Regions from separate parts of the Homo sapiens genome. Here region 1 is linked to region 2. The links come from fine-mapping of genetic effects on gene expression. A gene starts in region 2. The other region holds a variant in brackets. All regions are shown on one strand. Distances are from middle to middle.

Region 1 (5,516 bases), 52 kb after region 2:
ATTATTATCACCACAGTTGATGGACAAATGGGGCCCCAAAAGGTAGATCCACTTGCTCATGACAGAGCAATAGAGAAAGGCCTTTTCCCAGGGCTTATCCTGCCTCCTCCGGAGTCTACATGGACTCACCCAGCCTCTCCATTCATTCCCTGAGGCTAAGCATTGCTGGGTACAAGAGGCTTTCTGCTGAGAGGGATGCCCTCAGTTTCCCATGTGATGTGGAAGATAAGGCAAGCTGGGGAAAGGGCAGGATGAGAATGTGGGAGGGAGGGACCACTGGGTCTCCTGGGACACATGTGCCATTTGCCTCCAGATGGGGCAGGGAGAAATGAATTGTAATTGGACAGCAGAGATGCTGTAACTTTATTTGGAGTTAGCAGAGGAGAGCCAGGAAGGTGAGACCAGCAAGGTCTGCTGGGGGAGCCATGGGATCATGCTGGGGAGTGCCGAATGTATCTTGCAGTTTTGCAAAGTTGTTGCCCCCTCAGTGGGGCTGCTCCACATTGGAAATTCTGCAGTAGTTCTGAATGAGTCAATGTCTGAGAAAAGCATTTAGATCAGAAGTTCAGGAGAATAATTGGAAAGGCTCCATTGCAGGTCTGCTGTGTGTGGTTGTCAGAGTTGTGCCCTGCACAAAGGCACCTGGCAGGGTGTAAGTGGGGGCTGAAATCCAGTCCACATTCCACTCACTGAGCCTGGAGCTGATTCTGTTGGAGGAAGAGGCGCCTTTCTCTATTCTCACAAACGTGCCCTGTGGACTGGAGTGGTCCTGACGCAGTGGAAGAGGTGAGGAGAGAGACTTTATCCCCAGAGGCAGATTTACAGAGGCCAGACTATGCCAGTGGTTTGGTACTCAGGCAACCAAAGCTTTGACTTTCACAGAAACCAGGAGGGCCCAAACAAAGAGCCCAGGTGCTGGGGATGAAACGATGTGCAGGGAAAGGCTATGCACTGAGCAGCTCCCAGGCCTTCTGAATGTCCTTATGAAATGGTCAGGGGACCAGCAGGAGGGTCAGTGACACGAGCAGCCTCAGTAGGGGTCAGATCAGGAGGACTTGGACGAGGCTGAGGCAGAAGCTAATTGAGAACCCTGACCTCATGACTGGGACCCAACTCGCTGTGGAGTCAGGAGCTTGGGCTCTTAACCAGCATGTGTGTGTGTGTGTGTGTCTGTGTGTGTGTGTTGTGTGCATACACACGCACTATGTCTAAGTGGACACCTTGAAGGAAAAGCACCCCAGTAGAAAGAGTCCTTTAAAAACCAGGAATCCAAAAGGATAGGTAATGCCCCTGCCAGAGGCACCCTGCCCTGGAGGAGTTGCCTGATGCCATGTTCTGTCACCCAGCATTGCCATTATGTTGGAAGGGAAAAGGGAGGGTGCTGGTGTTTGCTCAGTGCCCACCAGGCACCGTGCCAGATGTTCTGCATCCATTACCTCGTTTTCCTCTCCACCCCTCTTCCTCGTGGCTTCTGTAGCAATGACAGCATTCAGTTGAATAAAGAAAGAAAAAGAGGGAAAAAATCTCCTTTCAAGGCTCAGCAGTGTTGCTGGACCCAGGGGATGCTGTGTGGGGTGGTCGTGTGCAACGGGCAGCATGAACTTGACTATCGCTCCCTCGACCCAAGTGGTCATTGTTATCATCCCCTGAGCTGTGCAACTTTTCCGGCAACTGCATGGCAGGCACGGGCAGCCGCATCAGCACACCCCAAGGAACGGTGCTGAGGGATGAGAGAAAACCTCGAAATGAAATGTTTTTTTTTTGTTCCTGGCAGGGGCAGGCCTGCTAGGCTTGGGTGGGGCTCTGTGGTCTCTGGGCCTCCTTAAAATAGCAAAGTTCTTTGCTGTGGGGGCAGAAAGACCTCATGGGGACAGGTCACAGGCAGTGTTCAAAGACTCAGAGATCTACTACCCTGTTCCTTTTCTTCTTTATTTCCATCAGTTGGAATGCTTTAGGCTGCGAGTAACAAAGAAAGCCAACCAAGACTGACTCAAGCTCTAGGATTTTCATGGTTTTTCAAACAAGAGTTGCGGAGGAAGGAGGTCCTAGGTTTGGTCGGTGGCTCCACAGTGCCATCAAGGACCCAGGCCTCTTCTGTCCTTGTGGTCTGTCTTCTCATCATTTTGGCCTTTTGGTTGTAGGCTTGTTACCTCTTGGCCACAAAATGGGTGCCAGAGCGCCAGGATTTACATCCTCAAATGGAAGCAAAGGCGGGAAGCCGTGTGTGTGCCAGTATGCCAAGAAAGAACTTTTCTTATGTCTCTCTCCTCTTACTGAGACAAAAATCCTTCTCAGAAGCCCCCTAGTGGACTTCCTCCTAGGTCTCACTTGCCAGAACTGGGTCTTGGACCCTCTCCCAAGGGTGAGGGGTGTTCCCGTGGTGGTGCAGGGCGGTTGGGGGTAGGGGGTGCTGGGAATGGCAGGTACGAGTCCAGTCAGCAGATCTGCCTGCCTCCCTTCTCCAGGAGCTTGTCCCAGTGCTCCCAGGGAACACCTGGATGGCCGGGTTCTGCAGTGGTGCTTGACTCCCCATGTCCCCCAAAGGCCAGCCACTTGCCCGTCAGTGGGTTATGGATGGTCTCCATGTATAGGGCATTGTGAGGAAGACCAAGAGGGTGGAGACTGTCCTGAGAAGGAGGCAGTGTTGCCCCCATTTTTATAGATGAGAACTCGAGCTCCAAAAAGTTTATGAACTTGTCTAGGGCTTGTTATACATTTTGTAACATTTTACAGATGAGAACACAAGCTCCAAAAAGTTAATGAACTTGTCCAGTAGATACCTAGTAAGTGGTGGCGCTAGGATTTAAACCTGTGTCTGTCTGTGAAGCCATCCTCTGTTTGGCCCACTTTGGAACAGTGTCCTCTCTTCTTCCAGAATCTCAGCCAGGAAGTCGGCAACCTTTAGACTTCCTGTGCATTCCAGCTCTCAGAGCTGACACCAGGGCCCAGCTTACAGCCTCCGGGAGAAGTTAATCTCAACACGTGTAAAGAGAACCAACCAACCCTGAAGTACACACCAGG[T/G]GCCAGGGGGCAGGGTGGCAGCCAGGAAATGCTGCAGGTGTTCAGGGGAGGGTAGGTCCCTGGGGATGGGATGGTCAGAGACCCCGTGGGGCCAATTCGTTTACCTCTTGACATCAGTAGCTACACCAGAGAAGGTGCTGACACCTGCACAAAGACAGCCCCTCCTGAGCTGCCAGGAGGAGGTGCTCCTCGCAGTCAGTGTAAATAGGCTGCTGGAATGGCCCCAGATGGCCACCAGGGAGGGCCACATGCCATCCCTCAGCATCGCTGGAGTGGGCTCTCTCTTGGTTGCTAGCAACAGATTCTGTTGACCTTTAGTAATGAGGGAGGCAGGGCTAGAGGGTGACTAGCAGCCAGGCCTCCCAGGCTCCCAGGCCTCTCAGATGCCTGGAATTTCGGAGCTAGAAGGTAGTCAGATTCCCGTTATCTTGACTGCTGCAGCGGGGTCTCTGGGATGGTGATGTGAGTGCCTCCTGCACCCGTGGCCCCCATGTGGCATAACTCCTTGGGCGCTATTCATCCACACGGCCCATCTGTGCAGGGTACAGCCTTCATGGTCTTAGCTGGCAGCCCTGACAACTTGGATGTGCAAAGAAGATACAAGTTTGTTTCCTCTGAAGCTTGTCTGGTGTCATCCAGGAGCCCCACCTGGTAGGTAGCAGTGATAAAACGCATTCAGCTCGGTCCAGTAGAGTTGTGATGGAGTCAGCCAGACAGGACTCTTCATTTGCTAACACGGAGAGACAGAAGTTGAGAAACGTCCTCTCTCAACAATTCTGGCTCTTAAGATATTTTGTGGCTGCAGAATCCTATCTTGGATGTTGGAATGTGAATTTTTTTGAGTCCTGCTTTAACAGTCCGAACTCTCCCTGGATAATGGATGTCATTTGTTTATTTTTTAATTTTTGTGTTTTTTTGGAGACAGAGTCTTGCTCTGTCATCCAGGCTGGAGTGCAGTGGTGCTATCTTGGCTCACTGCATCCTCCACCTCCCTGGTTTAAGTGATTCTCGTACCTCAGCCTCCTGAGTAGCTGGGACTATAGGTGCGCGCTAGCACGCTTGGCTAATTTTTTGTATTTTTAGTAGAGATGGGGTTTTGCCACGTTGGTCAGGCTGGTCTCAAACTCCTGACCTCAAGTGATCTGCCCGCCTTGGTCCCCCTAAGTGCTGGGATTACAGGCGTGAGCCACCACACCCGGCCAATAAATGGATGTGAGTTAGGGGAGAGCAGGAAGGTTACACCTAGTAAATGCAGAACAGTGCACTAACATTATTTTTAAAATTACAGTGATCCCCTTTACATTCCTCTCTGACCTCTTCTCCATCTCTCTTCCCTCCGCTTATGGCTTCTGCCTCTGCCACCAACTAGTGGTGCAATGTAGCCCACATTTAAACCCTTCAAGGGGAGGAGCTGGTTGGTTTAGCTGTCACCATTGAGTGTGGGTCACTTCTATGGAGCAGAGCTGTGTGCTGGACAGTCATGCAGAATGCTACATGACCACCTAGAATGAGGCGGCCTCCCTTGTGAACTGGGGGAACAGAGGGCATTGTAGGGGAACTGTTGGCCACAGATCCCAGCAAGACTCCTCTTTCCTTGCTGGGTCCTAAATTAACTACTGGATTCTTTTTACAAGGCAGGGAGTGAGAGGTGGAGAACATCATGAGACAGTTATCACGGATGTTTTCAAACAAAAACCCATTGATTTCCTCAGTACCATTAAGTTTAATTTAAAAAAAAAGTTTCTGCTCTAGTTTCTAGACCCTCAGCTGGTGAGGCCCCTTGAATTGTTTCCAAAGTCCAAGAGGAAATGGTTACTCCAACATACACACACACACACACACACACACACACACACTCACTCCTTGGGGACAGCACAGGGTGGACAGTGCAAAGAATTTATCTCCAAGTAAGCTCTGTGCATGAGGCCTGGTATCTATTTCTTTATGGGCAAGTTGATTTACTATCCTTTTTTATACCCAAAATGATTAGCAGCAATATAAAGAACTTCAACTTCTCCTTTCTCACATTTGGGGCACTGAGAGATGGGCTTCCTTTTACTCTAACAGAGATACTACAACGGAGCCGGCAGATCGTCCTTCTCTTCCATGCCATCCCCTGGCTGTAATGTAGATAGATTATCTCTTGGGAAGGGGAAGGCCCATCACCAGTTACCACATTCCCCTGGGGACAGTTTATCAGTCCATCTTTTTCTGCATTGCCAGGTGACAGGGAGCAACGTCTTGGTCTGTGGGCCAGGGGCCAGGCCAGGCACTCTGAACACGGGATCCCGGTTATCCTGAGAGTCGGTCAGGGCATGTCACAGGCAGGGAGCCTCGGCAGTGGCAGCTATGCCTGGCATCTCCCCGGCTCAGCCTTTGGCCTGGACTATGAAACAGCCTTTTAAAAAAGTTGCTCAGCCTCACCTACCAAGAAGCCGGAGGCCATGAAGGAGGGGGTGAGGAGTAGGACCTGCTGTGGACAGAGAATAGGGCTG
Region 2 (5,000 bases):
CTCTGTAAGATATAAAAGTGGACAGACAAGTCACAGCCATGGGTGCAGGGTGACTGGTGTCCTTGAGTTGCCCTTTAAAGGTTTCCGATGGGGTCCTAGGGCTGGAAGGGCCCTGGAAAGGTCTTGAGCTCCATCCTTCTGGCTAGAGGCTGACCTGCCCAAGACAGCTGAGACAGGGAATCTGACTCTTCCAATGCTGGACAGCTCGCTGGTGGGAAATGCTTTCATGGGCCTAATTTAAATTTCCTCTGCTGCAGGTTAAAGGTATATTTTGCTTGATTTGTTCTTGGTGGCATTAAATATTTGCTAAGCTCCTACTATGTGCCCAGGGGTACACAGTGAGAGAAGGCATGCCTCTGTGCTCAGAGGCTCATGAAAATGAGACCAGACCCTCAGAACTAAATGCAACAGGGAGAGCCATTGGGCTGGAGTTGTCAGGAGAGGTGGCAAGGAGGTGGTGCCGTGAGAGGTGGGATGCGTTTGAGTTAGTGCAGAAGAATAAGAGAGCATTCCTGGCAGGCAAGCAACGTGGGAAGATGCCTTAGGAAGGGTTTTGCACAGAGGAGACGCCTGAGGTCTGCAGCACATCTGCTACCCAAGAGATTTAGTAAGTCCCTGGAACTCCCCTGGGGAACGAATAGCTGCCTACCTATGTCCTAAGACACCTGTGAAACTCAAATAAGGCAGCAAGTAGGAATGGACCCTGCAGTTCACGGATTCAAAGCACAATGCTGAGCTTGATTTAAGAAGACTTTCATTCAAGTCCTCGCTCTGTCACTGTGTGCTCTTGGGCAATTCCCTTCCCTTCTCTAAATCCGTTTACTCATCAGCAAAATGGGGACGGTAATTCTTTCCTCACACTGTTGCATTTAGGACTCCCAAGAAAATGTGGTTAAAAATGGCAGGGCCGGGGGCGGTTGCTCATGTCTGTAATCCCAGCACTTTGGGAGGCCGAGGCGGGTGGATCACGAGGTCAGGAGTTCGAGACCAGCCTGGCCAATACGGTGAAACCCCGTCTCTAATAAAAATAAAAAATTAGCCGGGCGTGGTAGCGCGTTCCTGTAGTCCCAGATCCTCGGGGGGCTGAGGCAGAAGAATCGCTTGAATCCAGGAGGCGGAGGTTGCAGTGAGCCGAGATCGCGCCACTGCACTCCAGCCTGGGCGACAGAGTGAGACTACTCCGGTCTCAAAAAAAAAAAAAAAAAAAAAATTGCACAATGACCCACAAAGCACTTCCTGGAGGCTGGTTACTCTATTATTATTGCTCCAATCTAGACACTGGTCTCCCGGAAGGCAGGCATCCCATCTCCTCTCTGTTCCCCCAGCACTTTCCACAGAGCAGGTGCTCATATATGACGTTGCCTTCGCTGTCCAGGTGAATTGCACCGGTAATTACCGTGGAGCAGGAAGCCAGCACTTCCGGGCTTGCCAGGCTGTCCTGCTTGGAGAACCCCTCTGCTTCCACCTCTGCTAACTCCTCCCCTCCACCCTCTCCGCGGTTCTGTATCTGCGGAAACCGGTTCTGCTCAGGTGCTTGGGAGGGAGACTCCTTTCTCAAGACTTGCGAGGTCACCTTCAGGTGACTGTCCCTCAAATCTCCGCAGCAGCTCCAGGACACACTGTGCCCCGAGTCAGGATTGGATCAACACACAGGACGCACCTGTGTTATCACTCCACCAGTAGAGCGGCACTCAGTGGTAGTGTAGACAGTCCTAGGGCAGGGCAGCTTCTATAACAAGAGGTTCCTTAGGGAGCTAGCGGCCGAGTGGAAAGAGCGGGAGGAACGGCTCGGGCAGGCAGGTCCTGTGCTGTGGTCTAAGTCACTTCCCACGTCCGTCCCACTCTGATCGTCAGTTTCCTCCTCTGCAAAACTCACTAAGGCGGCCTTCGGGCAAGTCATCGCGGCGGGAATTAGATTCGAAAGAGTGCTTACACAAATCCGTCTGGCCACCCTGTGCCCCGGGCCAGCGCGAGGTGGGGGTGCGGGCAGGGCTCCCGGGCTTGCGGCTGCCACGCCCCTCCCAGCCCGCCGCGCCACACTCACGGCCCACGGGCCGACTTTGCGAGCCTCCAGGGGGCGAACCCGACCGCCTTCTTTGCCCGCGCAGCGCCTCGGCCGTCCAGCCTGTGACTTCACCAGCGTCCCCGGGCCAGCGGGACACCCGAGAGCCCGGGGCGCCGCCCGTTCTCCCAGCCGGCAGGTGCCGGGAGCCAGCCTCGCCCAGCCGCGTGGCGTCCGCAGGCCCGAAGGGGTTAAGGCCGCGGACCCGGGCGCCCGTCCGGACTCCGGGAGCAGCGGTGCCCGGCGGCCGGCGATCGAGCGGGAGGCTCGGGGCACGGCCGCTGGCGGGCTGCGCTTCCTCCTCCTCCTCCCTCCGCCTCCTCCTTTGTAGCGAGTTCCCGGCCCCTCTTCCTCCCCCCGCCCCCCAGCCCGGGCCCTCTCCCTCTCTCCCTTTCTTCCTGCCTCGCCTTCCTGCGGCGAAGGAGGCTCATCTATTATAAATGCACATTCGGGGCTGACATCAGCGACGAGCGGCGGGCGAGCGCCGACGAGCGGTCCCTGCGCGCTGCCCGCCCGGAGCGCAGCCCCCAGGCTCGGCCGAGCCGCCGGCGGGGCGCGGGGAGCGAGCCGGGAGCTGCCGGACCCCCTTCCGCCGCCGCCCCGGGCCGCCGCCGCCGCCCCCGCACGCCGCGCCCGCGCCCCCGCTCCGCCGCGGAGTTTCTGCATGACTGTCACAAAGGTAAGCGCCGCTCGCCCGCCGCGCCCGGGACCCGCCGGCGCCTGCATCCCCCGGGCTAGGCTGCGGGGGGCGCGGGGGTGTGGGTGTGGGGAGGGGGCGCCGGTGCCGGGAAGGTGCGGCGCGCGCCTCTCTTGCTGCCGGATCCGCTCGAGTCACTCCGGCCCCCAAGGACTGCGGAGGCCAGGGGGAGGATGCCGCTCTGGCAGCCCCGGCGGTTTGGCCAACATCCCTCCGCGCCCGGCCCAACCCCGGGACTGCATTTTTAACCCTTGTTTGGGATGCTGCATTTTTAACCCCTGGAGAGCTGGGCTGGGCGGCTAGCGGTGTCCCTCCAGGGAGTGCGCGGCGGGAAGCGTCGCTGGCAGGGGCTGGTGCTGAGCAGTGGGTGTGGGGATGGGCCTGCCGCCCCGAGGAGGCCAGCGGAGGGGAAACCCCACCCCACCTGCCAGCCTCTGCCGCCCATGCCGGGAGCGCTGGCTCCACTCCAAAGCCACTCTGTGCAGAAGGCGCTGCCCAGTCCCGGGAGCCGCTACCAGAGACAGGGCAGGTCCAGGTGGTTGGCTTGAAGATGTGGGGAGGGAATGTGACAGGGGAAGCAAAGGTGGGCATCTTGGCAGCCCCCATATTGGAGGATGATTGTTGGGCCTTGTCATAGGGGCCCACGTTTATTGGAGAGACTTCAGGGGCTTCCTAGTTGTAGGGAGGAAAGAGTTAAGAGGAAAGATGATGGGGCAGTGGAAAGTGCCAGGGTCAAGGGACCAGGGAGACCTGAGTTCAATCCCAGCTCTATCCCAGATCCCCTGGATGACCTTGGTCGGGGAGGGGTCCACTTTGGGCCTCAGTTTCTTCTTGTGTGCTGTGAGGGTGATAATATGGGTCCTGGGTTGTGACAGGCTGTTAAAGAACCAATAACATCAAGGGTGTGAACCCACACTCTTCAGAGAGATCTGTCTGGGTACTGAGCTCACAGTCTGGCGGTGGCCTCGGGCTTGGCCGTCCATTCAAGGGCCAGACTCCACCCTTTCCAGCTGCCCAGCTGGGTCCCAGAATTGGGGAGCTGGAGGCCAAAGTGGGACCGGCAGCCCAGAGTGGGGTCAGATGGAGGGTCAGAGCAGTGGGGCCAGATGGAGGGTTGGGGTGCAAGTGATGGAGGTGGGGTGGTTTTGGCTCCTTCTGGTAAGCCAGGGCCTACCCTTGCCCTCCTGAGGTCTGCCCCAAGACTGAATGTTTGTGCGGATTCTTGGGCCCAACTCCAAACTTTGCCATTGGCCCTGGTTCTGGGACTTGGGAGCATTGTGAGAAGATGAACTTGAGGGTGCAGGGGCTTCCTCAGCTCTGGCTACTTCTGGCAGGGCTGTTGTGGCCCACCTGGGGTAAGATGCTTAGGGTTTTGAAATGATGCAAATGCTATTCAGCTGGGAGGGATATTAAGGTTATTAATGTCAAAGATGCAAGCAGGCTGGGACAGAGGAGTAATGGATGGGCCCGGCTAGAGAGAGAAAGGGTGTGAGGTTTTAATAATAGCGCTGAGGATTAACTCAGCGCCTCCCCTGTGTCTCTTTTTGTGCGCGAGCTCATGCAGCCTTCCTTCCCTGGAGGCCTGCAAGGAAGGTGTGTTCAGTTCTCTTTAACAGTGGAAGGAACTGAGGCTCAGAGAGGTGAAATGACTTGCCTGAGGTCACACAGCATGTATGTGGCAGAGCTGGGGTTTGCCCTCAAGTCTGTCTCAATCTATGGCCAGTGATCTTTGCACTGCTCTGCATCGTTGGGCATCCTGGCTACTGGGGGACTTCCATGGTAGAGGAGCACTGCTTGGAGACCTGAACCTTGAAGCAGGGATGGGACAGGGAGTCCATGAAAGTGGGTGCTTACCTGTTAAGCCCACTGGCAGGCCTAGCTTCTTGGTATCCAGTAACTATTCAACACTCCTCCACCCCCATACCCAGCCCCCAACAAACCCTCCATGTCGCTCACCTCCTGCTCTAACCAATGTGGCTTTGGCTTAAGCAAGCTCAGGGGATTAAATAAAATCCCCACCTTAACCCTATCTTCTCTCCCCTTGCTGGCCCTTCACAGACCAGCGTGTTCTTGTGGGGAACAGAGAGCAAGAGGGATGCAGGAAAGGCACTGGGGACTGCTTTGCTGTCTACAAGCCCGCTGGTAGTAGCTCTTCCAGTACCATAGGGAAAGCCACCATGCTCTGGAAGTCTGAAGGCCTGGCCCCTAGTCCTAAATTAGCCACCAACAGGCTGTGTGACC

The links. PIP is the estimated chance that this variant, and not a neighbour inherited with it, causes the effect.
Region 1: its variant is fine-mapped to the expression of CORO2B in whole blood (TOPMed, PIP above 0.99). The same link has a PIP of 0.9 or more in blood mononuclear cells.

The regions. Positions count from the first base shown.
Region 1 is chr15:68,628,670-68,634,185 of GRCh38, forward strand. All of the region lies in intron 1 of CORO2B (coronin 2B), which reads left to right. Among named protein-coding and RNA genes, the nearest start is that of CORO2B, 52 kb to the left of the region's middle. The variant T/G (reference allele first, on the strand shown) is at 3,022.
Region 2 is chr15:68,576,537-68,581,536 of GRCh38, forward strand. CORO2B (coronin 2B) reads left to right here and starts at 2,457. Exons shown (of 12, transcript NM_006091.5): 1 at 2,457-2,741. The coding sequence starts at 2,727. RefSeq lists an enhancer at 2,645-3,512.